Homo sapiens: one gene and its partners. The protein of the gene in region 1 purifies or fractionates together with the protein of each later gene. This does not show direct contact. Each region holds a gene or a part of one and is shown in the gene's direction. Other genes may lie near its edges. The genes, in order: LLGL2, HMG20A, DCAF1, RAD18, PPFIA1, UBE2A and UBE2O.

Region 1 (4,179 bases):
TGACTTAGTGTTCCCAGAGTTTGATGAGAGGGACATCTGGGCACAGGACCATATGACTGTAATAAATTATATATATGTATATATACACACACACACACACACACACTTTTTTTTTTTTTTTTTTTTTGAGACGGAGTCTTACTCTGTGGCCCAGGTTGGAGTGCAATGGCATGATTTCGGCTCACTGCAGTCTCCCCAGGTTCAAGTGATTCTCCCACCTCAGCCTCCCCAGTAGCTGGGATTACAGGTAGCTCCCCAGTAGCTGCTACCATGCCCAGCTAATTTTTTGTTTGTTTTGAGACGGAGACTTGCTCTGTTGCCCAGGCTGGAGTACAGTGGCGCGATCTCAGCCCACTGCAAGCTCCGCCTCCTGGGTTCACACCATTCTCCTGACTCAGGCTCCCGAGTAGCTGGGATTACAGGCGCCCGCCACCACGCCCAGCTAATTTTTTTCTTTGTTTTTTTGTTTTGAGTCTGAGTCTCGCTCTGTCGCCCAGGCAGCAGTGCAGTGGCATGATCTTGGCTCACTGCAACCTCTGCCTCCCGGGTTCAAGCAATTCTCCTGCCTCGGCCTCCTGAGTAGCTGGGATTACAGGTATGCGCCACCACACCTGGCTAATTTTTGTATTTTTAGTAGCGGGGGGGTTTCCACCATGTTGGTCAGGCTGGTCTCTAACTCCTGACCTCATGTGATCCACCTGCCTCGGCCTCCCAAAGTGCTGGGATTACAGGCATGAGCCGCTGCGCCCAGCCCTCTAGTAAATAATATTAACATTTAATATAATTCTGGAATTCTCTGGGGGTCCTGGAGCTTTGGTTAAAGGCAGGGTCCACAAGGGTATTCCGAACAGGATGCCAGGCATGACGTCCACAGGGCCCTGGCCTTGGCCGGAGACTTGAGGACAGGGTAAGGAAGTTCCCTGAGAACCCTGTGGGGTCCTACCTCAGTGTTTCGTGGGGTCAGTGATTGGCAGATACCTTTTCTAGTTAATCCCTAGTCAGTCTTAACTGTTCGTTCATTCATTCAAGTACTTTTTTTTTCTTTTTTTGAGGAGTCTTGCTCTGTCGCCCAGGCTGGAGTGCAGTGGCGCGATCTCGGCTCACTGCAAGCTCTGCCTCCCGGGTTCACGCCATTCTCCTGCCTCAGCCTCCCGAGTAGCTGGGACTACAGGCTCCCGCCACCACGCCCGGCTAATTGTTTGTATTTTTAGTAGAGACAAGGTTTCACCGTGTTAGCCAGGATGGTCTTGATCTCCTGACCTCGTGATCTGCCCGCCTCAGCCTCCCAAAATGCTGGGATTACAGGCGTGAGCCACCGCACCTGGCCCTTTTTTTTTTTTTTTTTTTTTTTGAGATGGAGTCTCACTCTGTCACCCTGGCTGGAGTGCAGTGGCACGATCTCGGCTCACTGCAAGCTCCGCCTCCCAGGTTCACACCATTCTCCTGCCTCAGCCTCCTGAGTAGCTGGGACTACAGGCGCCCGCCATGATGCCCAGCTAATTTTTTGTATTTTTAGTAGAGACAGGGTTTCATCATGTTGGCCAGGATGGTCTCGATCTCCTGACCTCATGATCTGCCCGCCTCGGCCTCCCAAAGTGCTGGGATTGCAGGCATGAGCCACCGCGCCCAGCCCGTTCAAGTATTTTCTGATGCCTCTTGTGTGGTTCTAGATGTTGGATGTGATCCTTAAACAAAGCAAAGATGTCTGCCGTCGTTGAAAGTTGTTTCTAAAAGGTGAGAAGCCTGACTGACAGAAAGTAAAAGTAACTAATAAATTGTGTTAAAAGGTGATACGGGCTATAGGGTAAAAAGAACTAGAGCAACAATTGGGAACCCGCATGGTAGGGGGCAGGTTACAACTTTTAACAGGTGGTTAGAGTGGGCCTCTGCCAGAAGGTGACATTTGAGCAAAGCTTTGAAGGAAGTGAGGGAGCTGTTTAAATAAAATTCCAGTCCCTCCCATGAGGCACCTGGATGAGGCCAGCACAATCCCCACCTCCTGGAGCTGACATCTGGAAGCTTCTTGGGACAGCTGTTCCAGTTTTAGGGCAGGTAGGAGGCCCTAGAAAGGGGCCTGATTGGATGGGCTGGATGGCCTGCCCACGCCAGCCCCAGGCAGGTGGTCCATCTTCTCCCCAGAATGGTTTTGCTTTTCCTTGGACTTGGCTTTCTGCCAGTCACTTCCCTGGAGAGAGAGTCTGGTGTTGGATTATGAAAGGGGGCTAAGGCCCCCAGAATGGGGGTGCGTTCCCACCTTCCACCCCATCCTCACAGGCCCAGGAGGGGCAACAGAAAGGAAACTTCAGGAGGAGTCTAGGCATGGCGGGAGGATCCTCTTGGGGTTGTGGGATGGTTGTGATTCCATAGGATAGATGGTGGGGGGAATGGAGGCTGACCCCAAATGGGGCCCATCCAGCCTGCGAGCAGGCAGCCCCTTTGTCCTGGGAGAGAGGCCTGACCTGAGCGGAGGATTCTGCAGTCAGATTGGAATGCAAATTGGGGCTTGGATTTTTTTTTTTCTTTTTTTGAGAAAAGGTCTCGCTCTGTCACCCAGGCTGGAGCACAGTGGTGCCATCATAGCTCACTGCAGCCTCAACCTCCTGGGCTCAAGTGATCTTCCCACCTCAGCCTCCTGAGTAGCTGGGACTACAAGTGTATGCCACCATGGCTGGCTAATTTTTAAGTTTTTTGCTGAGACAAGGTCTCCCTAAGTTGCCCAGGCTGGTCTCGAACTCCTAGGTTCAGTGGATTCTCCTGCCTCGACCTCCCAAAGTGCTGGGATTACAGGCATAAGCCACTGAGCTTGGCAAAGGACTTGGACTCTTGACTGTTTGAGCTTGGGGCCACTCTGAATCGATCACTTCATAAGTAATTGTAAGAATTAAATAAGGTGAATGTAAAGTGCTAAAGTCACATCCAGCCATAGCTAGCTCTCAATCCCTTTTACTACTTAATTAACAACAGCGGGGACGACAGTCCTCCAGTCATGCCCCCATTCCCTCTGGTTTGTGTTCCCCTAGATCCCACTCCATGGAACTGCCTTTCAGCCAAGGTTTGGTTGCTAAGCTGCTGGCCAGGGACCTGCCTGGTGCTTCTGGGAGACTGGGCTTCCCAGGGCGACATGGGCACTTGCAAAGCGGCTACAGGCGTCTGAGTTGGCACAGATGCCGCAGGGGTCAGCAGCTGCCTCTGTGGTTTAGATCCCTGCCCACCAGTGCCATCAGAGTAGGAGGTGCAGGGGCGGATTCACATCCGTCAAACAGGAGGCCACAGCCACACTCAGGCCTCACACAGGATGTCGCAGAGGGGAAGGCAGCTTCTTAATCAGCAGCGGGCTGTGGGGAGCACGAGCGAAGAGGAGAGGAGAGCATGGGACATCAGGTGGCACGCCCTGAGAGCAGGCAGCTGGCGCTGGGTGCGGCCCGGGGGCCCTCTCTGGTTTCGGCTGGGTCTGGAGTCCTGCCGCTGGGTGTGGACTCTCCCAGCAGATCAATGAGATCAATGGAACTTCCCGAGCTATGGAGGGAGTTTCTTGAGGGCTGGCCCCTCCCACATCTCCAGGCCAGAGGGCTGGCTGGGCTTGGCCAAGCCTTGGTCTCACAGGGACAAATTAGCCCAGGTGCCCCAAACAGTGGCAGGGTGGGAGAAGCAGTCTGGCCTGGGGATCCCCTCTCCTCCGAGGCACAATCGCATCTGCCACTTAGAGCGAGGGGGGCCCAAGGCAAGTCCACCCCGTGTGGTTATTCTCTCTCTCTGCCCCCACTGGTCTCTTTCTTGAGCTCTTGAGATGGAAGGCGGGCCAGGGTGTGGATTTTGTGGCCTGTCACCAAGTGGAGAGCTCTCCTGTTCTTTCCAAGTGGGTGTCCAGGTGTGTGGACACCTGTCCTAGACCCAGAAATATTTTGCCGGCCAGGTGCAGACGTGGGTGAGTGGAACAGTGAGGAGGGAAGGAAACAGGTCGATCAGCTGCCCACAGGGAGCTCTCAGGCTGGTTCCACATGCAAGGCACAGACTTGGGTAGAAAGTGGATGGGAACCAGCCACAAGGCAGCAAGCCTTTTGCGGCCCGGCTCTAAACCCTGGCGCCCGCCAAAAGGGAACAGAGCAGGGCAGAACAGGGAGGGTGGCTCAGAGGCTGGTCTGGTGACAGGCAGGAGTGGAGACTGAGGTTGGATGGCCT
Region 2 (4,179 bases), on another chromosome or scaffold:
TAGAGCACAAGCGACAGTATCTCAGGTTTGTTTTTTGTTTTGTTTTGTTTTTTGTTTTTTTGAGATAGAGTCTCACTCTGTCGCCCAGGCTGGAGTGCAGTGGCACAATCTCAGCCCACTGCAACCTCCGCCTCCCGGGTTCAAGCAATTCTCCTGCCTCAGCCTCCCGAGTAGCTGGGACTACAGGCTCGTGCCATCATACCCGGCTAATTTTCTGTATTTTTAGTAGAGACAGGGTTTCATCATATGAGCCAGGATGGTCTCGATCTCCTGACCTCATGATCCACCCGCCTTGGCCTCCCAAAATGCTGGGATTACAGGCGTGAGCCACCACGCCCGGCCCAGTATCTCAGTTCTCACACCTCCTTTCCTATTCCCTCACTTCACTAGCACATGTTTGTGTACTGGCTTCTTTCCTCCCACTTGGTTCAGCCCCATTGTTAGGATTTAGGCCTGTGTTTCTGTGTGTGTATGGGATTTAGGTGTGTGTGTTGTTTCAAATTCTGTTTTCTCCTTCAAACTTTTCTTGTTTCCTCTAACTTCCTTTAACCCTCATGGCTCTCTATACTTGTGTTATGTGCTTAGCTGATCTGACCTAGGGGTTTTGAGGTAATTCAAGGGCTCACACTCTTTGGTTGTAATGTCTTTGTGGACATACACAGTCTAGTTTCCATCTTTATATCCAACCCCATACCACCTATCATGATACCTTTGCCTTGAGAAGGTATTCCACAAATGATTATTTTATGGAATCTATTCAAAGTTGACCTGAAATAACTGAGAATTTGAACAAAAAGAATTTTCTGATGTACTCTTTTACATGTGTTTGGTTTTTTACTAAATCAAGGAAATGTTGGTTACCTTAAAACATAGAGAAAAGATTCAGATTCACAGGTCAAATAGACGTTATTACCATCTATGAATTATAAAGTGAGAAGCATAGTAAATATTTACATTTTATTCTTCAGATAAATCCTATATAAATGTAATTATATATGACATTCTATGCTCTAATTAGGATGAAATGTTATGTTGTTTTGCTGGAGAAACTTTGTATGTATTCTTTGTATTTTAAATCATAATAATATTGTAAACTTTTCATATTAGCAGACATTTGTATAATTACTTCTCTCTTTCTTTGCCTGTGTGCCCAGCTATCAATATCATGAAATTCCTGTGCTTCTTTTTTTCTCTATTTTATAGCTTCTCTATCCTTAACAGTTACCAAAGAGAATTTGGACAGTAACCTGAAACATTAGATCTCACATTTTCTAGTCAGTCATCTGAATAGGTGTCAGTCATCTGACTCATTTCATCACTATGAATTTTGCTGGCCAAACTATATGTAGCATTTTTGTCTTCAGTAAACTTGATAGTTGCAGTCAGAAAAGATGTAGATTTAGTCTGTATCATAGAACCTGCTGCTGATTATTTGAGAAGTGAAGGTGTTTATTCAGATACATTAGTGTGATATGAATTTCTGTAATTTCTGTGATTTGCAAAAAGAAGTGAGTCTCTGTATTTCCCTGTTACAGGATTAGACACATGTTAAACCAAACAAAAAAAAGGAGTGAGTAGATGGAGAGCCAGCAGTTGTTTCTTAAAAGGTTATACAGTAGGTTCTGTAAATCCATGTGTTGGTATGGCCACAGCAGGATAAAGCTCCTTTAGTAAGCGTGTTGACCCAATTAATGTCCCTTACTTCATCCATTTTTATTTTTCACTGAATAATATGTTTCCTAAATTAGATAATTTTAGAACAATTGCAGTATAAAAGAACTGATTTGAAAGTTTTAAAACTGTTTTTAAACACTGTTACCCAGTAATTTTCTTACATATAACTTCTTAGTATAATAGAAGTTCAGAAAAATAGCACTATGGGTGAAAAGCAGCCGCAGAAGGAGCCCATGGAAAGGAGTAATTGAATCAGGACTTAAAAATGACCTAGGTTTTGTGGGCATCTCAGGGTGGGTAAAATGGCTTGAGCAGAGGTATGAGTAAGTTTTTAATAAAAGAGCAAATATCTTGCAGTGTCTAAAGACCATAGATCCTAAATACATACTTATTTCCCTTTACTTATCCTATGAGGAGTAAAACACTGAGACTCAGTGATCCTCTCAACTGACCACCTCATTTTGCCAGTGAGGAAAGTGACTTGCCTAAGACAGTATATAGAATGGAAAGAATTTACCCAGAATCACTTACTGAATTAAATTAGAGGCAGAATTGTGACAGAAACCCAGGCCTTCTGTGTCATAGTCTAACATTCTTGACAGCACAGTGCCATGCTACATAGCATAAATTACAGCGTTGAAAGTAAAAATGGGCCTCGTTGCCCAAGGTGTCAGCAAAATGTGTTGCCAGTTAAGTAAACTATTTGGTTTGTGTATAGTAAAGAAACCTATTGTATTCCTAAATGAAACTTGGATCCCTAAGTCATTGTTACCAAGGCAGGTACTGGAGAGGGCATATTAGAGCTAAAGAAATGCTGACCTGAAAGCCATTCTGCATAGCAGTGGGGCACTTCAGGCTGGTACACAATGTTAAGAGCATTTCCCAAAGTAAAAGTCTCTTGAGAGAAGCACATATCACACTCTTTGAAATTCTGGCCCTGAGCCTAGATCACAGCAAAATAGGTTCAGTTCAAAAGGGCCTCTTTTCTCTTAACCTCCACTCAATATATAGAATGGAAACCAAAGTGAAGAATATTCTTGCTCCTCTCAAATCGAAAGCCAGCCCACTAGACCCAAGAGTTAGCGAGTATTACTCTCAAGAAAGTGTCTATATCTCATGTGAAAACTAAGATAGAAACAATAATTTTGTTTCTCCTTTAATTTATGAGAAATGACAGAATGACACTCAGCTTGAACAAATTAGACCCTTTCAGTGAAAGGGTAATCAGATCCTTATGATTTTAATCCTTTGAGCTATCCTTGGAGCAGCTTAAGTACACCCAAGCCCCCAGAAGGATCCTCTCCATGCCGTGAAATGTGCTCAGTAATGGAAGAGCGCTGATGGTTTTTATTACCACTCTTCCATTAAGTAGAATTTCTCTGTTACCTTTCAGAGACTGAACAGTTTCATTGAATTGCTTTAATGTTTCTTATTTTGTGCTCTGAGAATCTGTACCAAGGGGCAGTGTGTTAATGCACCTATGTGGTGCTGTCCTCTGCCCTTACATAATTAGCTTGATTTGGACTGCTCTGGCAAAGAAGAGAAAAGATTACCAGTCTGAGGAGAGTCAAGACTTTGGAGGAGAGGGATCTTTGTACCATGGTAATGGGAGCCAAGCGTCTCCACTTTACCCATCTAACTGGCAGATATTGAGACGTATAGCTTAGGTAACTGATCTCATGTAACTGCAGTTAAGTTGGAGATTGAATAAGATAGGATGATAATGTCCTAAGTCTTTATGCTGTCATCTGTGGACTTATGTTTATATCTGTTATGCCTTGTGCATGTTGGGATTGTGTGTCATTAAGTTTTGTTTTCCTGCAGCAGCCCAGTAACAGTTAAAGCATATGGGAAGCCAGCAAATTTGAGAGAAAGCCACTGCGAAATATGGCTAAGATTCCTTCTGGAACCAGCCTTTCTTGTTCATACATTAGTTTCCATTGAAATCCCCTAGGAACTGGCTCGAGGTAGAGCTTTGCATGTTGAAACTTGGGACTTTCGATTGATAATTTTGTTGTTCATTTTCAAATTATTCTGGGAAACTTTGCTTTCTTTTGTTAGGAAGAAAAATACAAGTAGAAATTAAGTGCTCTGAAATTACATAGCTTTTCAGTGTCTTTCTTGCTCAGCTGCCATTGGCAGGTGGTTCACACAGCCCAGCCCCCTTACTAGGCGGCCACCGTTATGAATACAGGAGCTCGGGTGTCAGATTTCCCTCTTAAGCTGTGAACTGCTTAGCTTTTCTACTGGGCACCAAGTCATTTTTGTGTTCAAAGATTTAAAAAACTAGTGGAGGCTGGGCACGGTGGCTCAAGCCTGTAATCCCAGCACTTTGGGAGGCCAAGGCAGGTGGATCACCTGAGGTCAGGAGTTCAAGACCAGCCTGGCCAACATGGCGAAACCCCGTCTCTACTAAAAAAATACAGAAAATTAGCCAGGCATGGTGGTGGGCACCTGTAATCCCAGTGACTTGGGAGGCTGAGGCAGGAGAATTGCTTGAACCTG
Region 3 (4,179 bases), on another chromosome or scaffold:
AGCACTTTGGAGGCTGAGGCGGGTGGATCACCTGAGGTCAGGAGTTCGAGACCAGCCTGGGCAACATGATGAAATCCTGTCTCTACTAAAAATACAAAATTAGCTGGGCGTGGTGGCACATGCCTATAATCCCAGCTACTTGGGAGGCTGAGGCAGGAGAATCGCTTGAACCTGGGAGGCGGAGGTTGCAGTGAGCCGAGATCGTGCCACTGCACTCCAGGCTGGGATAATAGAGTGAGACTCCATCTCAAAAAAAAAAAAAAAAAAAAAAAAATGCTTTGTAGGGTATATGGCCTTTGTTGCAGCTCTTCAACTCTGCTGTTGTAGTGAGAAAGCAGTCATAGACAATCCGTAAATGAATGATTGTGGCTGTGTTCTAATAAAACTTTGTTTTGCAAAAATAGGTGGTGGGCTTGTAGTTTGTCAACTCCTGCTTCAGAGGATTAGCCTTAGAATGAAAGGCCAAAGTGTAGCTCTCCGCCGAGAGGCATGGCTAGAATCAGTCAGAAGCAGCCCCTCATGGGGTGCTGTTCTTTTTGGGGTGAATTATAAAGAAATGCAGGCCCTCTTGTGGAGGAGCCCTTTCCTGTCTCCCTTTGGCTAATCCCTCCTAACAGCCAAGGGGAAAATATTTTCCCTTTGGCTTCTGGTTTATTCACTTCCTTTTATTTACCTTTTTTTCTTAATCCAAATTTTGAGGAACAAACTCCAGTTCTTCTAGTTATTTCCCATTAGGTTTCTGAAGTCAAGTTGTCCCCTGACTATGGTAATGAATCCTGCAGAAATCAGCAAATAGTTCAAAGAGGCTGTTAGCTCTGCAGCTGTACATGAATCTTCTTACCAAGGCTGTATTTTGAGGAAGCTTGAGGGTGGGAGGGTAGGGGAGTGTCTTCTATATGTTCATCTGCTGTTCATCAACTTCTGTTTTTTCATACTTGGAGGCTGAGGTGATTCAGTGGAGTAGGCCGAAGCCTGGTCAGACAAAGTTTTAATGAACGTTTTTGTCACGTGTGAATAGTGAGACATGGGAAACAAGTTATACCTCCTTTCAATTACAAGTAGTTAGCAGGGCAGGTTCGCAGGGTCAGCAAACAGCAGGCCAGCTGATGGTGGTGCTCCCAAAATAAGAGAGCATCACTTTAATTTTTCCATTCTTAATTTGAATATAAAGCCACTCAGTTTGTATTTGGCCTGTACAATTACTGCCTCTTTTAGCTGTTGAGGAAATTCCTTCTTTCAAGCCAAAGGTAATCTGGAAAACTTTAACTCTATCAGTTGTGAGAATGTTGTTACTTTATGAGAATATTTACGATGTGAAAATAATGGATCACAACTTGAGGACGTCTCAGAGTGGACTTCAGAATTGAGGTGGAGATGCAGAGGTGGCATCTGGAGCACACTCCATGGCTCTTTCTGTGTTTCATAGAAGAGCCAGCTGCTGTCAGCAAGGAGAGCATTCTTAGCACCCATGGTTTTGCCTAACACTAATCCTTTAGAGCAGTAGCTCTGAACCTTACTGGGCTTATGAAGAGCCCTTTTAGGATAGGGTGAAAGCCATAGAAACTATAGAAAACCACACCCATGCGCCCCCACGTACCTTTACGTAGGCCCTGGAGTCTGCAGGGACTCCCTGATTGCAGATGCAGAGCCCTGGCCCTAGGAAGAGAAACAGCTTGATTCTGAGATCTTTTTTTTTTTTTTTTTTTTTTGAGATGGAGTCTCACTCTGTTGCCCAGGCTGGAGTGCAGTGGCGCAGTCTTGGCTCACTGCAAGCTCCGCCTCCCGGGTTCATGCCATTCTCTTGCCTCAGCCTCCTGAGTAGCTGGGACTACAGGCGCCCGCCACCACCCCCAGCTAATTTTTTGTATTTTTAGTAGAGACAGGGTTTCACCGTGTTAGCCAGGATGGTCTTGATCTCCTGACGTCGTGATCCGCCTGCTTTGGCCTCCCAAAGTGCTGGGATACAGGCATCAGCCACTGCACCCGGCCTGATTCTGAGATCTTTATGTGTCTCTGCTTGTCAGCCCTGCCTCCAGAACCTGTATGTTGTAGAGCGATAGGTTAAACACTACAGGGATTAATTATACCTAGATTGTCTGCCTTAGCGACCTTTCAGAATGGGAGGTCCTAACCAGGGTTTGGGATTGGGTCACTTCAACACTTGGAGAATGGGGAAAGGATAAGGAAGGTGGGGAAAGGATAAGGAAGGTAGAGAAAGGCGTCCTATGGTCTGACCACCAGAGGGGAGTTGGTGCCCAAGCCCTGGAGGTTTTCTCTCAGACCTTGAGCCTGACAGTTACTTGCTTAAAGAAGATTGTGCTGTGACCTCGTTAAGCTGCATTTACAGTTCTTAGATGTGCTACAGCGTGGTTAAGATTCTTAGTTCTTAAGAGCTGCATAGCTGCTGGGCAGAAGGGTCTCAGGCCGGTGGGTCTGGCATTGTTGGCTTGTGGAGAGCATGAGTCCTGGGGGATGCTGTGGATGCTGCCGCAGGGACCAGGCAAGTTTGTGGTATGGGGTGGGGACACAGTGCTGGACTTGGCTCTGGGGAGGAGGCCCCACACCCTCCTGTGACACTTCCTCCTGGAGCTCTTACAGCAGAGGAGCTGAGGCTTGCTTTGTTCAGCTGTGTTAGATAATAGTTCTTTGCCATCTCCATCTTGTTTTCCTACTCTTCACCAATACATCACCAATACAGTCAGGCCACTCTTGTGCCCACTTAGACCCAGGAACACTGGTTTTGTCAGCCATTTCTTTTGCTTACTTCCAGACTTTTTTGTATCATTGCCATGCTTTTCTTGGTTTTCCTTTGTCCACTTCAGTTTTCCTCCTAAAGGAAGTTGTGTTTGGGGATAATGAATGAAGGAAGGTTTGGGAACATGATTGCTCTCTGTTTGTCCAAGAGTTGATTCTCTTAGGCACTGGAAAAAGGCTGATGAGGGATTCTTTGCATCTAGTGGCTGCCCCTTACCACATGGGGCATTTGCAGGGCTCCAGCTCAGGGTTTGTCTGTTTTACGGGCTCAGGGTTTGTCTGTTTTATGGGGGACCTAGGTAAAATGGTTTCATAGCCTCCTGAGCTACGAGTAATCAAATTGGGCACTGAGAACTTTCCTTTTCTTTGACTCAGCGAATATTAGAGTCCCTACAAGCTAGGTACCCTGTTTCTTTCTGATTTTGATCAGCCAGACATGGTGTATCTACCTCATCTTGAGGGTCCTTTTTGCTACCACTTAAGTTTCACCCCTTAACAGATCCTTCCAGAAGTGTTAATGTGTCCGTGTGCTGCCAGAGAAGGCAGATTGTCAAGCAGAGAGGGTCCTCATCAGAGACAGTGCTGTCTTCCAGGGCGTCACACTGCTCCCGCTGGCCTCCTGCCTCTGGATGGGTAGCTACTTCTCTTGTATTGCTGCAAATTGGCCTGCACCTTTTTGGGAATATAATTTGCAGACTATATTCTGAAATTACAGAGGCATGAATCTAGGGTGACTATCTCTGCCTTGGTGGTCGGTCTTCTGAGGATTGAAGGGAGTGACTAAGGTGTTTCAGAAAAGATACATCTCTCACTTTTGCCTGGTCTTAGCCTGCCTTTCTAGTGGTCTCTTGGGGTCAGGCAGGCCTGTGCGTATCCTTGAAGGACAGCAGAGGCCAAGGGCCATGGAGGCTTACTCACTGCTCCCGTCAGCTCTGCCCCTTTGCAGCCATTTAAAGTGGCATGGGGGGAAGCTTCAGATGGCACTCGCTTGATCCCTTCAGCGCCTCCCAGGCAGGAAGCAGGGGAACTGTGTCCAGGCCCTTAGGAGAGCAAAAGGTCTCCGGGAGAATACAACTGCCAAGCAACAGGAGTATTCTCCAGAGCCAGCTCCAAGGAGTTAATTGATGTGTTTTCTTCTTTCTGGAAACTGGTAGTTAACCTTGCTCGGGCATGAATGTATGTGAGTGCAGGTGCTTCTGTAGGAAAGCTTCCTATAAGCCTAGTGTGTAATCTTGTCTCTCCCTTTTCTTCCCTTTCAGCTGACAGCTCTGACAACTCTGATTTGGAAGATGACATCATCTTATCTCTGAATGAGTGAGGAGCCATCACTGCTTGGAAGAGATTCTTGGCAGGCGAGAAACTGAGTCAAATGAATTCAGAACATATTCCCTTCTCTTTCTCCCAGGGCTGTCTGTCTTTTAAGGA
Region 4 (4,179 bases), on another chromosome or scaffold:
CTTCTAGGCCCTCTCAATGGACAGAGCTAAGTAATATATGTATGTTATATATATGTATGTACTAACTCATGTATATACACATATCTATAATTGATTCTGTCTGCTATATATTAATCTGTTAATTCTTAATCGGATTTATTCAGCATGTATTAAATGGTATGGCATTTGAAATATGTAATTGCTTGTACTTTATAAAGCTCAGATATGCAACTTTACTTCCTGTCAAATGCATGAATGTGTGAAAGTGAGTTTGGTCACCCAAAGGGATATGAAAAGGCATGTTTCAATATCTTGGATTACTTTTAGTTTTAATCATGCAAGTCAAACAAGAATTTTTATGAAGGACGTACTGGTTTAGATAGTGGTCAGGTGCCCCTGTAGTTAAGTGTAATCATGTGTTGCTTAACAGGGATGTGTTCTGAGAAATGTGTCATTAGGCAATTTGGTTGCTGTGTGAACATCATACGGTGTACTTACACAAACCAACATGGTATAGCCTACTACACTCCTATTCTATATGGCAGGGCCTATTGCTCCTTGGTAACAAAACCTGTACAGCATGTTACTATAGCTAATACGGTAGGCAGTTGCAACACAATGGTACCTATTAGTGTATCTAAACATAGAAAAAGTACAGGGAAAATATGGTATAAAAGATAAAAAATGGTACATCTTTATAGGGCATTTACTATGAATGGAGCTTTCAGGACTGAAAGTTACTCTTGATGAGTCAATGAGTGAGTGATAAGTGAATGTGAAGGCCTAAGGCCCTTACCATACACTACTGTAGACTTTATAAACACTGTACACTTAGACTACACACTAAATTTATAAAAAAGTTTCTTCAATAATTAACCTTACTGTAACTTTTACACTTTGTAAACTTTTATATTTTTTTAACTTTTTGACTCTTTTGTAATAACACTTAGCTTAAAACACAAACACATCGTATAGCTGTATAAGCATCTTTCTTTATATCCTTATTCTGTGAGGTTTTTTCTGTTTTTAAAAATTGTTATTATTTTTTCCTTTTTAAACTTTTTCTTAAAAATGAAGATGGAGGCCGGGCTTGGTGGCTGACGCCTGTAATCCCAGCACTTTCGGAGGCCGAGGTGGGTGGATCACGAGGTCAGGAGATCGAGACCATCCTGGCCAACATGGTGAAACCCTGTCTCTACTAAAAATACAAAAATTAGCTGGGCATGGTGGCACACACCTGTAATCCCAGCTACTTGGGAGGCTGAGGCAGGAGAATCGCTTGAACCAGGGAGTTGGAGGTTGCAGTGAGCCGAGATCACGCCACTGCACTCCAGCCTGGCGACAGAGTAAGACTCCGTCTCAAAAAAAAAAAAAAAAAAAAAAGAAGATGGAAACACACACATTAGCCTAGGCCCACACAGGGTTAGGATTATCAAGATGTCACTTAGCAATGGGAATTTTTCAGCTCCATTATCGTCTAATGAAACCACCACTGTGTATTTGGTCTCTTGTTGAACAAAGCATGTTGGAACATTCTATGAGGTACCTTATGTTGCTTTTAAAAATATAAACAGATTTCTTTCAATAGAATTACACATTTCTTTATTGGTTTGCATTCTAAAAACGATCAAATTTAGTACAGTTGTCTCTCAGTAAAGGGGATTGGTCCCAGGACCCCTGAGAATACCAAAATCTGTGGATGCTGAAGTCCCTGACATAAAATGGCATAGTATTTGCATATGCACATCCTCCCTTATACTTTAAATCACCTCTAGGTTACTTATAGTCCTAATACAATGCTATATAAATCGTTGTCATACTGTGTTTTTAAAATTTATATTATTTTTCATTGTTGTATTGTTACTTTTATTATTTTTTGAACATTTTTGCTCTGTGATTAGTTGAATCCACAGATGCAGAGCTGGTGGATGGGAAGGGCCGACTACAGTTTATTGTTTAGCCAAATGGTTCTAGACTGCTGTTTACATGTTTCTGATCAGAACAAGCATTGCAGGACTTTAGTTACAGAAGTCCATGGAATTGATTGCATAGATTTAATGGCTGCCCATGTCTACCCAAAGGCCTATTTTGACTCTTGATTCTTAGCCCCATTCTGAAGAGGTAAGGTTATTGTATAGTTAACAGATGGACAAGACTTTTCCTTCCTTCCTTCCTTCCTCCCTCCCTCCCTCCCTCTCTGCTTTCCTTTCTTCCTCCCTCCTTTCCTTTCTCCCTCCCTCCTCCTTTCTCCTTCCCCTCTCTATTCCTCCCTCCCCCGTCTATTCCTCCCTCCCTTTCCTTCCCTTCCTCCCTTTCCTCTCTTCTTCTTGCTCTGTTGCCCAGACTGCAGTGCAGTGGCATGATCATGGTTCACTGTAACCTCGAACTCTTGGGCTCAAGGGATCCTCCTGCCTCTGCCTCCCAATTAGCTAGGACTATGGGTATGTGCCACCATGTCCACACTGAAGAAATAAACAAAGCTTCCTTAAATATGTGGTAGAATTTACCAGTGAAGCCATCTGGGCTTGGAGTTTTCTTTGTGGAAAAGTTTTAAATTATAGCTTCTGTTTCTTTAACAGATAATAAGGGCTCTTCAGGTTTTCTGTTTCTTTGTCAGTTTTGATGAATAGTGCTTTTCAAAGAATTTGTCCATTTTATCTAAAATTTAAAATTTGTTGTTTTAAAGTGTTCATAATATCCTCTAATTATCTTCTTTATAGGATTTGTAACGAGGTCTTCTTTTAATTCTTTGTTTTGGTAATTTGTATTTTCTCTCATTTATTTCTTGTTCAGTCTTAGTAGGGATTAACAGTTTTGTTAATTTTTTCAAAGAACCAATGTTTGGCTTTGCTTGTTTTCTCTTGTTATCTCTTCTATTTCACTAGTATCTGTTATTAGTTTCTCTCTTCTTTGGGTTTAGTTTGCTGTTCATTTCCTAACCTTTTAAGTTGGAAGCTTAGAGTGGTGGTTTTTACTTTTTCTATTTTCAATAATTTTCCCTCCAGGGACAGTTTTGGCAACCCTTCATGCTATCGTTCAGTTTAGAATATTTTTCTAGTTTTCATTGTGATTTGACATGCGGGGTTATTTAGAAGTGTGGTGCTTTATTTCTTAACATTTGGAGATTTTCTAGTTATTTTTCTGTTGTTGCGTTTCATGTAAATTCGGTAGTGGTGGAATCTATGGGTTGATTTTTTTTTTCTATCAGATTTGAAAATTCTCAGCCATTGGTTTTTCTAGTATTGCTGATTTCCCATTCTTTCTTTCTGTTCCTTCTGGGCTTTTAATTATGCCCAATATCTCATACTTTTTTGTGTTTGTCTTTTTCATTCATTTTTCTCTCTGTGCTTGGTTTGGATATTTTCTATTGACCTGCCTTCAAGTTTGTATTGTGTGTTGTTATACTCATCCAATTTAGATATGGTATTTTGCAGTTGTAGAATGTTCATTTTATTCTTTTTTATGGATTTTATTTCTCATAATACACTATCTTTTTATCCCTTTTCTTTTTTTTTCTTTAACATGTTTATCATAGTTTGAAGTCCTTACCTAGAGATGCTATTCTTTGGATTACCTCTGGGTCTGCTTCTATTGAATATTTTATCTCTTGATTAGTGGCTACTTTTTCTTGCTTCTTTGCATGTTCAATAATTTTAAAATATGTGCTGAACATTGTGGTTGAAACGTTGTAGAAGCTGTGAATTGTCTTCTTTTGAAAGATGTCACATTTTGTTCTAAGAGGCAGTTAAATTATCAGCTCTTCATCTTTGTTCTGTCAAGGCCTGGTATAATGTTTTCTTAGGTTAGGTCTGTTTGAGCTTTGTTTATATTTCTTCAGTGTGGTCCATTTTTCTAAGGTGTGGTCTTTGTGGGGTGTCACTTGAATGTCCATGATCTTACCAAGATTTCTCAGCTTTGGCTGGGCTCCAATGCGAACAACTAACTTTCCAGCACTGACGTTTGGGATTTTAATTTACCAGTATCAGCTTCCTAGTGGGTCTCCTGTGTTTTTGTCTAATCATGTGCAGCCCTGGAAATGAGCAGGAATGGATGTGAATTTCTAAGCAGACTGGTGGGGTTCCCTTTCAGTAGCTACCACGTGTCAAAGCACTCTGACCCCTCAATCCTGGCCAGTTTTGTTCAGAACTCTGATCTCTTATTTTCTCTAACAAGTAAGATCAATGTTTCCTGTTTAGACTT
Region 5 (4,179 bases), on another chromosome or scaffold:
AAAAAAAAAAAAACTTCAGACAACTAGTTTTTGGTTTTTTTTTTTTTTTTTGGTCTATTGGCTTTCCCTTTTCTGTTGGAAGCATGAGAGTCCTGCAATAAACCAGATAAGGACGATCTTTCATTCCAGCCCATGTGCCTGATCAGAAGAGTGACATATATTTAGTTCTTACATGGAAAGAGAAGTGTTTTTAGGTGTGCCACATGAAGATTTTATTAATTTTGTTTTTATGGGTAATTGCCTTATGCCATTCTTTTTGACTCATGGGCTCATTTGAAAAACAGGGAACTTTTATTCCTCTACAGAACATTGAATATGCCAGGCAAGGTGGCTCATGCCCACAATCCCAACACTTTGGGAGGCCCAGGTAGGCAGATTGCTTGAGTCCAGGAGTTCGAGACCAGCCTGGCCATCATGGTGAAGCTCTGTCTCTACAAAAAAATACAAAAAAATTAGCCAGGTGTGGTGGCACATGCCTGTAGTCCCAGCTACTTGGGAGGCCAAGGCAGGGAGATTGCTTGGCCCGGGAAGTGGAGGTTGTGATGAGCTCTGATTGCGCCACTGCACTCCAGCCTGAGTGACAGAGTGAGACCCCCATCCCAAAGAAAAAGGAAAAAAAAAAAAAAAAATTGAATATCTTTGGCCAATACCCCTGACCAACCCACACAACACACCCTTGTTAATATGACTCCAAGGATCATGGATCCCTTTCTGCAAAAGCCCATCCATTGACTCCACATTAGATGCCCTGATTTAAAATATTATTATGGTTCAATGTAGTCATAGCAGTGAGGGAGTTGTTTTTTTGTTTGTTTTGAGATGGAGTTTCGCTCTTGTTGCCCAGGCTGGAGTGCAATGGTGCAATCTTGGCTCACTGCACCCTCTGTCTCCCAGGTTCAAGTGATTTTCCTGCCTCATCCTCCCAAGTAGCTGAGATTACCGGCACACGCCACCGTGCCCGGCTTATTTTTGTATTTTTAGTATAGATGGGATTTCACCATGTTGGCCAAGCTGGTCTCAAACTCCTGATCTCAAGTGATCTGCCTGTCTCGGCCTCCCAAAGTACTGGGATTACAGGCATGAGCCACCACACCCAGGCCCTAATTTTTGTATTTTTAGTAGAGACGGGGTTTTACCATGTTGCCCAGGCTGGTCTTGAACTCCTGACCTCAGGTGGTCTGTCCGCCTTGGCGTCCGAAAGTGTTGGAATTACAGGCGTGAGCCACCAGACCCAGCCAGCAGTGAGGGAGTTTAAGTCTTGGTTTAAAAAACAATTACGATGCTAACACCCTTCAAATTAGATTTGATGAAAGTTTTATTTGTTTTTCTTTGGTTATTTCAGGCTCGTGCTGTCTTGGAAAGAGAATTTAACAACCTTTTGGTCATGGGGACTGATAGAAGGTTTGATGAAGTAAGTTTTTGGCCTAATGTTCTTTAAATGTCTGAAATGTGTGTAAATGTTTAAATGTGTGTGAAATGTAAGCTGTTATTATTATTATACTTGGGACATCATGTAGCTAGGCAGTCTCTCTGGATGTTAGAAGTCAGGCTTTGCTCTTATACATTTATTCACAAATGAGCCTTTAAAAACTAATACCTGGGCCGGGCACGGCGGCTCGCACCTGTAATCCCAGCACTTTCGGAGGCTGAGGCGGGCGGATCACCAGAGGTCAGGAGTTTAAGACCAGCCCGGCCAACATGGTGAAACCCCATCTCTACTAAAAAACACAAAAATTAGCCGGGCGTTGTGGTAGGTGCCTATAATCGCAGCTACTTGGGAGGCTGAGGCTGGAGAATCGCTTAAACCTGGGAGGTGGAGGTTGCAGTGAGCTGAGATCGCACCACTGCCCTCCAGCCTGGGCGACAGAGAGAAACTCCATCTCAAAAAGAAACCCCCTCCCCGCAAAAAAAAAACCCACAAAAGTAATACCTTCAAGAAGGTAGTTTTGTTTTTATTTTTGCTATTTAATTTTTGACATCCCTCAAAAATGGTTTTCACATCATAAAACATTGGTTGCAGCTTAGGAACAGAGTCTGTAAGTTGGGTTTTGGGGACCAGTAGTTATCCTACCCCAGTCCAGAGTGTACCCCCATACTCCTGTGCATGGGTGGGGTGGCATGTTTCAGAAGTATATTAAAAACACAAAATGTTAATTTCCCCTTAAAACCATGACTCATTTGTTCCACACGATTAGGAGTCTCTTAATTGGACCTTAAGAAAAGTTGAGTTTGACAGAGAGAATAGAAGACCACCTCTAAAGATGAAGCACTTGTTGCTATATCCTGGCATAAGATAAAATTGTTTCTAGTTAAAAATTGTTTGTAGAGCTGCGTGTGGTAGGGGCACACCTGTAGTTCCAGCTACTTAGGAGGCTGCGGTGGGAGGATGGCTTGAGCCCAGGAGTTTGAGGTTACAGTGAGCTATAATCACACCACTGCATTCCAGCTCGGGCAACAGATCTAGACTCTGTCTGTAAAAACATAAATAAAAATGAAAAATAAACTATTTTTAAGATAAATAAAAACGTATTACGTTGCAAGAAAGTGATTCCTGCAAGGTGTAAGAAGTAGAACATGATGCTGTGGAGAAGGAGCACATCCTCATGGCCCAGCACCGACCTCATTTCGCCAGCTGAGGCCCAGCCGGACCATCACCATGCCCCGTTTCACGCTGAAGTTCCAGGTTGGGCAATATATTGTGTGGTCATCAAGAAGGGATTAAATACATGTGGACAAGAATACATTCTCGAGATCAGCAGTCATTTTAAAGGACATGTAACTTTACATCTCTGACCTTTATTTTTTAAATGAATCTTGTTTTTTGTTCCTTAATTTACCAGGATGATGATAAAAGCTTTAGGAGAGCACCTTCATGGAGAAAAAAGTTTAGACCAAAGGACATTCGTGGCTTAGCTGCTGGGTCAGCAGAGACTCTCCCTGCAAACTTCCGGGTGACTTCTTCTATGTCTTCCCCCTCTATGCAGCCAAAGAAGATGCAGATGGACGGTATGTGATGGGTCACACTAACCTGTCACTTGTTGGGAGCATGAGCAGCTTTCTGTCTGGAACATTAATAATGATCTAAAACGGCCTATTTAATATGTTACAAGGCACTTGAGTATGGTTGCATGTCCAAATATAAATGTTTTTAAATTAACTCTAACATTTGTTTATAAAAGTTTAACCATAATAATAGAATTTTTAAAACACGCTTGTCTGGTTGAATCTTAGCATATTTTTCCAACTAATAAAGCTCAGTATTCGTCTGTGTTCTCAGAGAGAGACTGAGGCATACTTGTAAATTTGTGTCTGTGACAGGCCGTGCTAGAAAGCTCTTTCAGGAAATAGTAGTGTAGTAGTAGCTTCCAAACCACATAATTTACTGCTCTCCACACCAGAGAAAATAACTGAGTACATTTTTAAGAACACACAGTTTCCAGCTTGTGTGAGCTCTGCCTATGCTTTCTGCCCTCCCTGCTGCTGCTGTTCCGTGCAGTCACATGTCTACCCATTAGAGGGCAGGGAAGGGAGGAAGGTGAACCTCCAAGAAGTCCCCAGTGGAGCGAGGCAGCTATTGACTATACCAGCCAGAGAGAGAGCATCACTGCCATGATTTCACATGCAGTTTGGGATTTTCCCTTAGACGGCCACTTTGATTTGAGGTTAACAGTTGACCATGGCTTCCTTACAGGTCTCTCAACTCTGCCCTTGTACTCATCTAATGAAAGGCAGTGCACAGGTTGAAGAGCCAGGCTGCCTAGGTTTGACTCCAGCTCTGCCACTAGGAGGTGCATGACCCTGAACAAGTCATTTAACTACCCTGGCCTCGGTCTCCCCATCTGTAAAATGGTCGTCATGGTAGTGTCTTCCTCATAGAGTAGTTGCGATGATTGAATGCCTCATTCATTAAGCTGGTGAAGTTCTGAGCCCGTGTCAGTCGGGGCTGTTTGGCAGCCCCTGTGCTACACACAGGTCACTCATGCTCACTTCTGAGGCCAGTGAGCAGACTGGAGGAAAGGAAGTGGCATTAAAAACTGTGCTAATCCTTGAGGCCAGGAGTTTGAGACCAGCCTGACCAACATGGCGAAACCCCGTCTCTACAAAAAAAAAATACAAAAATTAGCCAGGTGTGGTGGCACATGCTTGTAATCCCAGCTACTTGGGAGGCTAAGGCACAAG
Region 6 (4,179 bases), on another chromosome or scaffold:
GGCTTGAGCCACCGCACCCGGCGAGCACTAGTTCTTTATACCTGAGCTTTAAATGTACAGATTAACTGTGTTTGCTTTAGCTCTAGTAGGCCTTGTTTTCATTGGCTTCTTTTTTCCTCGTTTTACTCTGTTTTATGCTGGGCACAGCTTTATTAATAGTACATCACTTTGCTGGGGATTGGCTACCTAAATATTTCAAGGGTGCTTCTCTTAAGTGGTATGAATTGAAAAGGTACTTACAGAGTCCATTATCTACCAGGACTGTCACCTTTGACATTACTGGTTCTATTTTTGATGATGTGTATCTCCATCCTAGCATTACTGAAAGGAATTACTCAGGCTGATTTGTTCTGTTGAACAGTCTGCTACCGATGGATGCTTCCTCAGGTGTCTGGAACACTGTGGCCTGTGGTTCCCCCACAAAAAAAATTTTAGCTTTTTTTTTTTTTTTTTTTTTTGAGATGGAGTTTTGCTCTTGTCACCCAGGCTGGAGTGCAGTGGCACGAGCTCAGCTCACTGCAGCCTCTGCCTCCCAGGTTCAAGCAATTCTTCTGCCTCAGCCTCCCAAGTAGCTGGGATTGCAGGCACCTACCACCATGCCCAGCTAATTTTTGTATTTTTTAGTAAAGAGGGGGTTTCACTATGTTGGGCAGGCTGGTCTCGAACTCCTGACCTGAGGTGATCCGCCCACCTCGGCCTCCCAAAGTGCTATGATTACAGGCATGAGCAGCCGTGCCCAGCCTTAACCATTTTTTGAATACCCTTTATTTATAGTTGGGGAATTTACAGTTAGAGAAAAGACTGATTAGGGATAAGTGGCATAGTTGATTTTGCTGTTTCCAATGTATTATGTTATTAATTAAGAACCCCAAAACTACTTTTGCTTCTTTGTTGTAAACCGTTCGTTATGGAAGTTTCTGGAACAACCAGGTCCTAGTTAGAGTGATGAAATCTTAAGACAAGCAACACTTAAGGGTATTTTGGTTTAACTTCACACACTCGAAGTAAGAGGAATATATTCTCAAGAGCTTACACTACCAAAACATTGGGGAGAAATGCTTCCTCATCAGAATATCTTGGTATACATGCTAAATACAAAGGTTATGGAATATAATCTTCATCACATAATCTAAAAATTGTTAATAGACATGGTAAGGTACTGGTATTTGCTTTTCATAATAGATGTGTTCTTTAGAATTGGGGTATAAATCGTTTTTATTTTTTTTTAATTTTTGGAAATGTTTCTGAGTCATAAAATCTTTTTCAAAATGAATCTCTAAAGTCCACTAAGAGTGTTTTAAATATAAATAAATCCTATGATGAAGAGTTTTGGATATTACTTGAAAAATCGATTTTCAGTCATCAAAAATAATTTTGAAGTTATATGTATTTTGCTTTCTTCTCAGGGGTCACAAACTGGTGGCCAAATGGCAGAAAACACCTGCAGGTGTGTTTTCTTTGGCCAACACAGTATTTTCCAAAACTTGACTTTGTGAGTGTCTTTAGGCAGAACATATACCCCCTCTAGTTCAACCATATCACTCCTTATTGCCATACACCAGTCACTTAACACGTTTATGTAATTTTGGTGGTCTCCCTGTATAGATGGATTAATTGATACTTTCCTTACGATGTCTTAGCCTCCTCGGGAAGATGAACAAAATTAGTATACATTATGTACAACAATGGTGAGGCTTAAATTTTCAGTTATTTTAAAGCCTAGCCTTCTAAATATTCAGAGGGTAAGCTGTAGTCTCAAGACTGCATAATACTAATTCTGGGATTTTAAATTCCCTTAACATTTGTTTTAGAGCTTAGAAATTACATTGAAGGTTATACTAAACAGGTTCTGATTAGTGTGACTAAAAGTGTGAAGTTTTTACCCTCTTTTTAATGTGTACCTTGAATAAGATTTGGGTTGTCTTAATTTATATTCAAGTAGACATAAATAGGTTGCTTCACTTCTCAAGATATTAAGTGAACTGTTTTAAAAGACTTGCGATTAACTTCTTTGGTAGCTAGGTAATCACTTAGTTGAACTTCTGGGCAAGTGTATGCAGAAAGCTCAAGTCAAGGAACTTGTGAGCCACCAATATAGGTACTCAACTTGCTTTGAACTGTGAGTGTTTGATGTAGACCTAAAAGTACTGTTTAATATCTGAATGCCTTAATTGTATATTTCTTACTGATAGTTCTGATTTTTGGGTTTTGCCTCCTTCAGCTGAGTCTAGAGATGTGAAACTTTAGAATTATTATAGCAAAAATAGTTGCTCATGGTTTTGGAGCACTTAACTTTGTGGAACTATGCATATTCCTCTCATTTAAACCTCACAACAATGCTATATGGTGGGTACTATGATTAATCTCATTTTACAAATGAGGAACTTAAGGTTTAGTCAAGGAGAACACCTTCCCCAAAGTCTCACAGCTAGTAAGTACCAAAGCAAGGACTTGGGCCCAGACCTGTCTGACTGCAGAGCTCATGCTCTTAGCAGTGTGTTTTACTGTTTTTGCTTATGGCTTCCCTATGTCTTGCTTTACTACCTTTAGATACCATATTTAGTGATGGTTTTGAAGTAGCTGGGATCTCCATGTGCTATTACATCTGCCCAGTTTTAGAGCAGTGTCTCTTACCCATAATTTAGTCAGATTGCAACATTGATCCAAATGTGTTTACACTTGAGATCATAATACATAAGGAAACTCAAAGTTTTGAACTCTAACACATTCCCACTTTTTCTTGCATATTATAGTGTCAATAAATACTGAAAAGGAAGAACTGTGCTTTCTTCCTCAGAAAGAGGAAGATTTATGACCAGGTGGTGATAAAGGTGAAGTATGTTCTGATGGACATACTTCCATACTTCTAATGGGCATATGTTTGTCCATTCCATAAGATTTTACTTTCTTAGTTATAATACATAGTATCTTCAGGTCTGGCTTTGAAAAGAAAATAGGGAGTAACAATAATTTGAGGAATATAATGTCTCTGTATGTTGCATTTTATATTATTTTGAAGCTTTGAGACACTTGTTCATAGTAAGGGCAGCTTTGTTAGCAAATTGTTTCCAATGAGCTTGCTAAAAACAAACTTTTTGATACTGTTTTGTCACAGATCTAGTCCTAGAATGATTATAGTCTTCTCTCTTTCTTAAGCAGTGATAAACCTTTTAATGAGAACAAAAAGGAAATAAATTGCTAACTCTGAAGGAACCAGTAAGAAATACACTGAAGTATGGTCTGTTGTTTTAGAATAATTTGTTAAATGGACCAGAGTAATATAGTGGAACATGCATCACCTTATACCATATAGTAACTGATTCTTCTAAGTTTACTTGAACAGATTTCAGTCAGGAAAAAACATTGCTCAATTGTGTTCTTCAATTTATTCAACAAACAATTGAAAATAATATTTTAAAGGACATAATCTCTTCATATCACATCTTAACAATTCTTGAATGAGATCCAGTTTGTCCATGCCTTGTAAGTAAGTTTATAACCTACTATGCTTTAGGGCCTCCTGCTACCTTAGGTTGACATATATTTAAGAAAAATAATTTCATTTCAATAGTAGCATAAACATTAGAAAAATAAATTTGCTGGAAACATGAATGCAATCTAAACCAAATGTGATTTTAAAATTATTTCTGCCATTAATTCCCTCCATATGTGTGAATAATTGAGTTGATTTTATAGTGAAGTACCTTATGAGCCATACTTAAGGGTTTCTGAGAGGGACTATGAAGTTTTTCCTGGCTTAAATTCAATTAAGTTTTCATTATAGGGTCACTATGACATGAAAAGGAACCAGTATGAACACTTTTATACTTATTCCCTTCTATTTTAAAAATAACTTGATTATGGATTTGTATTCTGGCATTGGTTTTTGAACCATTGTGCTTTCATTCTTTCTAGTCTGTCTAAAAATCACTGGAGCGTTTAAGATGGCAGCTGACTAACATAGGCCTTTGAGGTCTTTTGGTCTTCTAAAGGAAGAAGGCCAAATTTTGGGCCCAGTTTCTTAAGGATGTTTTCAAAATGTACAGTGGCTAAAATCTTGTAAGCAGTAATTTTGTGTTTATGATGGCTGTCTCCAAGTTTGGGGGAAAATAATGGCAAAACAAAAAATCACATTTGAGTAGTTCTTAGAGCAATTCCTAGAGATGTATTTCTTACCTG
Region 7 (4,179 bases), 910 kb from region 1:
TGGGCAGGCAGGAGGGAGGGAGATGATGGGTAGGGAGCAGGACGGGAGGAACACTGCATTCGCACTGGCGGTGTGCTTCTGCAGATTCCACTCTTTTCATTCCCTGACCCCTCAGTCATTCTCAAAATAACTGTCAAAAACACATTGCATTTCTAGAGAACCTTTGACTGCCCCTCAATGTTGAATGAAGCAACCTCTGTAGTCTGATTCATTCCAACACTGAACTGCAGTTCAGTTTTATTCCCCAACTCCACCTCCTAGAGCAAAACAAGTGTGCAGACACTCCACGTAACTGGCATTTCTGTGTTGCCTCAGAAGTGGTCAGCTCCATTAGGAGCTCCAACTTGACCTCCTGTCCGCTCTGCTGCTGTCATCCTTCGGCTGGGAATGCTGAGTCATGAGACAGGTTCAGGAAGGATTCCTTGGAGAGGCTGAGTTCCACCTCAATTTCAGTTTCTGTTCCCTTCAGTTTCCGTGTGTTTTTGCTTTAGGACATTAGAGGCCTCTTTGCACCTTCCCCATCTCTACTTCACTTTTATCCCTGTTTCTCTCTGTTTTGTTTGTTTGGTTTTTTTTTTTGTTTGTTTTTGTTTTTTCATTTTCCTGTTATACTAAGAGGAACTTTTTCTATTTTTTACTACTTAACCCACCATGGGGGCTCATGGAATCCAGTGGAACCTGTTGGGGGCCAGCACTTTTTAAAAGGGTGCAATTGTCGTGTATAACATGAATTGCCAGCACAACAGTCCTGGGCACGTGATCAGTGTCAGCTGCCGCTGGTGGTCGGTCCCCTCAGAGTTGGAGTCAGGGTGGTTTTCTGTGACATGTGGGTTTTCACCCAGGAGGATATGATCTGTGCTCCTATTCTGATGGAAGCTTTTGGAATTTCCTTGCCCAAGGCTTAGCCTGCTTCTGGATGGCGATGGGGAGTTGCTGATTTAAAATGACAATCAAAAGGGGCAAGTTACAATCAGGAACGTCTATAATGTGCTTTCCAGTTTACAAGAGGCTATCACTTTTCTCACTTAATAGGATCTCGGTATTTTTAACTGTAGCTCCTTCCTGAGGCTCCACTTGCCCATGAATGGGTGCCAGTCCTGGAGAAGGTCATGGTCTAAATGCTGCCCATCCACATTTGCAGCTCTTACTGAGCAAGAGTGCCCGTTCGGAATTGCTTCATCTTCTGACATTCCAGCCAGCCACGGGGGGACTCTGTCAGGAGCCACTTGATGTGTGCAGTTATAGCCAGGGAAGAGCAAAATGCTTATTGGAATTTGCTGTAGTTGAGAATAAAATTGAATTGTGTTACTGGATAACTCTCTGGATTTATCTACTCCAAGTTATTTGCCTTTGTTTCATTCGTTAGCTATACTCTGTGATTGAGGATTTAATGTCCTTCAATCCAGGCTGACTGTATTGGATGGATCCTTGGGTCAGCTTTGTCCAGGTCACCCCTAGACACAGGTAGGCTGTGTTCTCCTGAAGCAGTATTGTGAAAAGCACATTTTTATGGTTTAAACATTGCAGTCAGTTGACATACCACTCAGAAGTATTCAGTGGGCAATAAGGATTGGAATGAATGTCCTTTTTGGGTTTAATCTGGTTCTTTGGTTGGGGGATTTTGAGTTGGTTTGCATTTTTAGAGAGGCCACAGCAATATTTAATATTCTGCAGCTAAGTCAAAGGAGTAAGACATTTTTCAGGTCACTTTTGGTTTAAATTGATAGCATAACTATACCTGGGAAACAGTCTGACTATGATAATTGAAAGTAAAAAAAAAAATTAAAACACTGAGTCATGCTTGGAAAAAGAAAAAAAAAAAGGCAGTCAGTCCTACCCAACAATGACATGAATATTCCCAGCTAGCACTGACAGAGAGATTTCCTGCAGGCACCCTTAAAAAGAGAGGCCTTCATTTGCATCCTGCAAGAGAGCTGGTCTTTTCACACTCAGCAGCTCCGATGATGTTCTTCCTCCTCCTTTTAATTCTGGTCCTTTTTGTGGGAGCTCCCTCTGGAAGAGGGCAGTTGAAGATAGATACCTTGACCGGCAGATTCAGCGGACTGTGTGTGTGGTCACCGGACTGTGTGTGTGGTCACCGCTAGTGCAGGTGGGAAGTGTAGACACACAAATACGTCTCCAGGGATTCTGGGAGCCTCAGGGCTTGACATATGCAGTGCTGAAAGCATCCCGGTATTCATGTGCTCTGACTGTTTTATTATTTAAGGGATTCTGAGGGCCCTGAAGGTTGATGACATCATCTTCAAGCCAAGGAAGAAAGCATTTCTCTGGTCCCCCAGTGTGCTTTTGGGTCATCCCAGCACTGTACTGGGGGAAATGGATGTCTGCCTCCATTTCCTCATGACCTGCTCTCGCCTTCAGTCATTTTCTGTCTAACCTCTCACACCACTGAGTGTGACGGCTCCCCTGAAGGTCACAAATGACTAGTGAATTTCTGATCACTGCATTTGCTGACATTTTCTCAGTCCTTGTCCTCATTTTGATCCATCAGCCTTATGCTCTGTCACCCAGGCTGGAATGCAGTGGCGTGATCACACCTTACTGCAGCCTCCGCCTCCTGGGCTCAAGCAGTGCTCCCACCTCAGCCTCCTGTGCAGCTGGAACTACACACTCGGCTTTTTAAAATATTTTTGTAGAAACAGGGTCTCACCATGGTATTGGCCAGGCTGGTCTCGAACTCCTGACCCCAAGTGATCCTCCCACTTCAGCTTCCCAAAGTGTTGGGATTACAGACGTGAGCCACGGTGCCTAGCTGACCACACCCTCTTTGTTTTGTTTTGTTTTGTTTTGCTTTGTTTGTGAGATGGAGTCTCAGTCTGTCGCCCAGGCTGGAGTGCAGTGGTGCAACCTTGGCTCACTGCAACCTCTGCCTTCTGGGTTCTAGCGATTCTCCTGCCTCAGCCTCCCAAGTAGCTGGGATTACAGGCTCCCGCCACCACGTCCGAGTAATATTTGTCTTTTTAGCAGAGACGGGGTTTCACCATATTGGTCAGGCTGGTCTCGAACTCTTGACCTCAGGTGATCCATCCGCCTCAGCTTCCCAAAGTGCTGGGATTACAGGCATGAGCTACCGCGCCTGGCCGACCATGCCCTCTTAACGGTATTTCCTTCCTTGGGGTTCTATTATACCAGACTATACCAAATGTTTCTCTTTTTTGCCTTTTGTCTTCTTCCTCTTACCCATAGATGTGCAGCTTTTCCAAAGACCTCTCTTTTCTTTATCTCTTCCTCCCCAGTTTTTTGGAGTGACCTCCCTGCTTGTAGCTGCATCTGGTACCTGTATTTAGGTGACTTCCACAGTGACATCACATGCCCAGCTGCTTACTTGATAGCTCCATTGTGCCATGTAGACTTTGTGGGTATAAAATCTTGTGATTGTGACTGCCCTTCCCATCCCCAAGTCTGTGGACTTAAAAAAAAAAAAAATGTTCTGACTGGGCACAGTGGCTCACGCCTGTAATCCCAGCATTTTGGGAGGCCGAGGTGGGTGGATCACTTGAGGTCAGGAGTTCGAGACCAGCCTGGCCAACATGGTGAAACCCCATCTCTACTAAAAATGCAAAAATTAGCCATGCGTGGTGGTGGGTGCCTGTGATCCCAGCTACTCGGGAGGCTAGGGCAGGAGAATTGCTTGAACCCAGGAGGCAGAGGTTGCAGTGAGCCGAGATCGTGCCCCGGCACTCCAGCCTGGGCGACAGAGTGAGACTCTTTCTCGAGGAAAAAAATATATATATATATTCCCCAACTTTTTTTGTTTTTGGTTCTGAACCCAAGACCCAACTTTTTAATAGGAAAAAATATTGACCATACCAAAATGTTGAAAGCCAGTAATTGCTAACCCCCAACCATTATGAGTCAGCAGTTGTTAACATCCTGCCATATTTGCCTTATCTGTATGCTTATGTAAATATATTTCCTCCTGAATTATGTCTGGTACTAACTCCTGCTAAGTTAGTGGCAGACATGATAGCACTTCACCCCTAAATACCTAAGCTTGAATCTTCTCAAAATTAGAGCATTTGGGGTCATTTTTAATTTACCTTCTTTGGCCCTCATTCTAACTTGTCATCAGTTCTTTGAGAGGCCTCTTGCATCCTGTGCCTGCATTTCCCTTTCACAACCCTGGTTTGCTCTCTGCTTGCCTCATGCCTGCACTGT

The links.
Region 2: the proteins of LLGL2 (region 1) and HMG20A purify together in Homo sapiens (affinity purification with mass spectrometry; 2 studies listed by BioGRID and IntAct, with this or other methods). This does not show direct contact.
Region 3: the proteins of LLGL2 (region 1) and DCAF1 purify together in Homo sapiens (co-immunoprecipitation; 4 studies listed by BioGRID and IntAct, with this or other methods). This does not show direct contact.
Region 4: the proteins of LLGL2 (region 1) and RAD18 purify together in Homo sapiens (affinity purification with mass spectrometry; 4 studies listed by BioGRID and IntAct, with this or other methods). This does not show direct contact.
Region 5: the proteins of LLGL2 (region 1) and PPFIA1 purify together in Homo sapiens (affinity purification with mass spectrometry; 2 studies listed by BioGRID and IntAct, with this or other methods). This does not show direct contact.
Region 6: the proteins of LLGL2 (region 1) and UBE2A purify together in Homo sapiens (co-immunoprecipitation; 3 studies listed by BioGRID and IntAct, with this or other methods). This does not show direct contact.
Region 7: the proteins of LLGL2 (region 1) and UBE2O purify together in Homo sapiens (co-immunoprecipitation; 3 studies listed by BioGRID and IntAct, with this or other methods). This does not show direct contact.

What each region holds. Positions count from the first base shown.
Region 1 is NC_000017.11:75,531,972-75,536,150, forward strand, and holds part of LLGL2 (LLGL scribble cell polarity complex component 2), read left to right. Parts: exon of another isoform or gene 1-907; intron 908-1,328; exon of another isoform or gene 1,329-1,734; intron 1,735-4,179. UniProt on the Homo sapiens protein: Part of a complex with GPSM2/LGN, PRKCI/aPKC and PARD6B/Par-6, which may ensure the correct organization and orientation of bipolar spindles for normal cell division.
Region 2 is NC_000015.10:77,472,232-77,476,410, forward strand, and holds part of HMG20A (high mobility group protein 20A), read left to right. Parts: intron 1-4,179. UniProt on the Homo sapiens protein: Plays a role in neuronal differentiation as chromatin-associated protein. Acts as inhibitor of HMG20B. Overcomes the repressive effects of the neuronal silencer REST and induces the activation of neuronal-specific genes.
Region 3 is NC_000003.12:51,398,662-51,402,840, reverse strand, and holds part of DCAF1 (DDB1- and CUL4-associated factor 1), read left to right. Parts: intron 1-4,013; coding exon 4,014-4,072; 3' UTR 4,073-4,179. UniProt on the Homo sapiens protein: Acts both as a substrate recognition component of E3 ubiquitin-protein ligase complexes and as an atypical serine/threonine-protein kinase, playing key roles in various processes such as cell cycle, telomerase regulation and histone modification.
Region 4 is NC_000003.12:8,942,652-8,946,830, reverse strand, and holds part of RAD18 (E3 ubiquitin-protein ligase RAD18), read left to right. Parts: intron 1-4,179. UniProt on the Homo sapiens protein: E3 ubiquitin-protein ligase involved in postreplication repair of UV-damaged DNA. Postreplication repair functions in gap-filling of a daughter strand on replication of damaged DNA.
Region 5 is NC_000011.10:70,375,190-70,379,368, forward strand, and holds part of PPFIA1 (liprin-alpha-1), read left to right. Parts: intron 1-1,342; coding exon 1,343-1,411; intron 1,412-2,840; coding exon 2,841-3,006; coding exon of another isoform or gene 3,007-3,014; exon of another isoform or gene 3,015-3,282; intron 3,283-4,179. UniProt on the Homo sapiens protein: May regulate the disassembly of focal adhesions. May localize receptor-like tyrosine phosphatases type 2A at specific sites on the plasma membrane, possibly regulating their interaction with the extracellular environment and their association with substrates.
Region 6 is NC_000023.11:119,577,200-119,581,378, forward strand, and holds part of UBE2A (ubiquitin-conjugating enzyme E2 A), read left to right. Parts: intron 1-4,179. UniProt on the Homo sapiens protein: E2 ubiquitin-conjugating enzyme that accepts ubiquitin from the ubiquitin-activating enzyme E1 and transfers it to a E3 ubiquitin-protein ligase. In vitro catalyzes 'Lys-11', as well as 'Lys-48'-linked polyubiquitination.
Region 7 is NC_000017.11:76,442,863-76,447,041, reverse strand, and holds part of UBE2O ((E3-independent) E2 ubiquitin-conjugating enzyme), read left to right. Parts: intron 1-4,179. UniProt on the Homo sapiens protein: E2/E3 hybrid ubiquitin-protein ligase that displays both E2 and E3 ligase activities and mediates monoubiquitination of target proteins. Negatively regulates TRAF6-mediated NF-kappa-B activation independently of its E2 activity.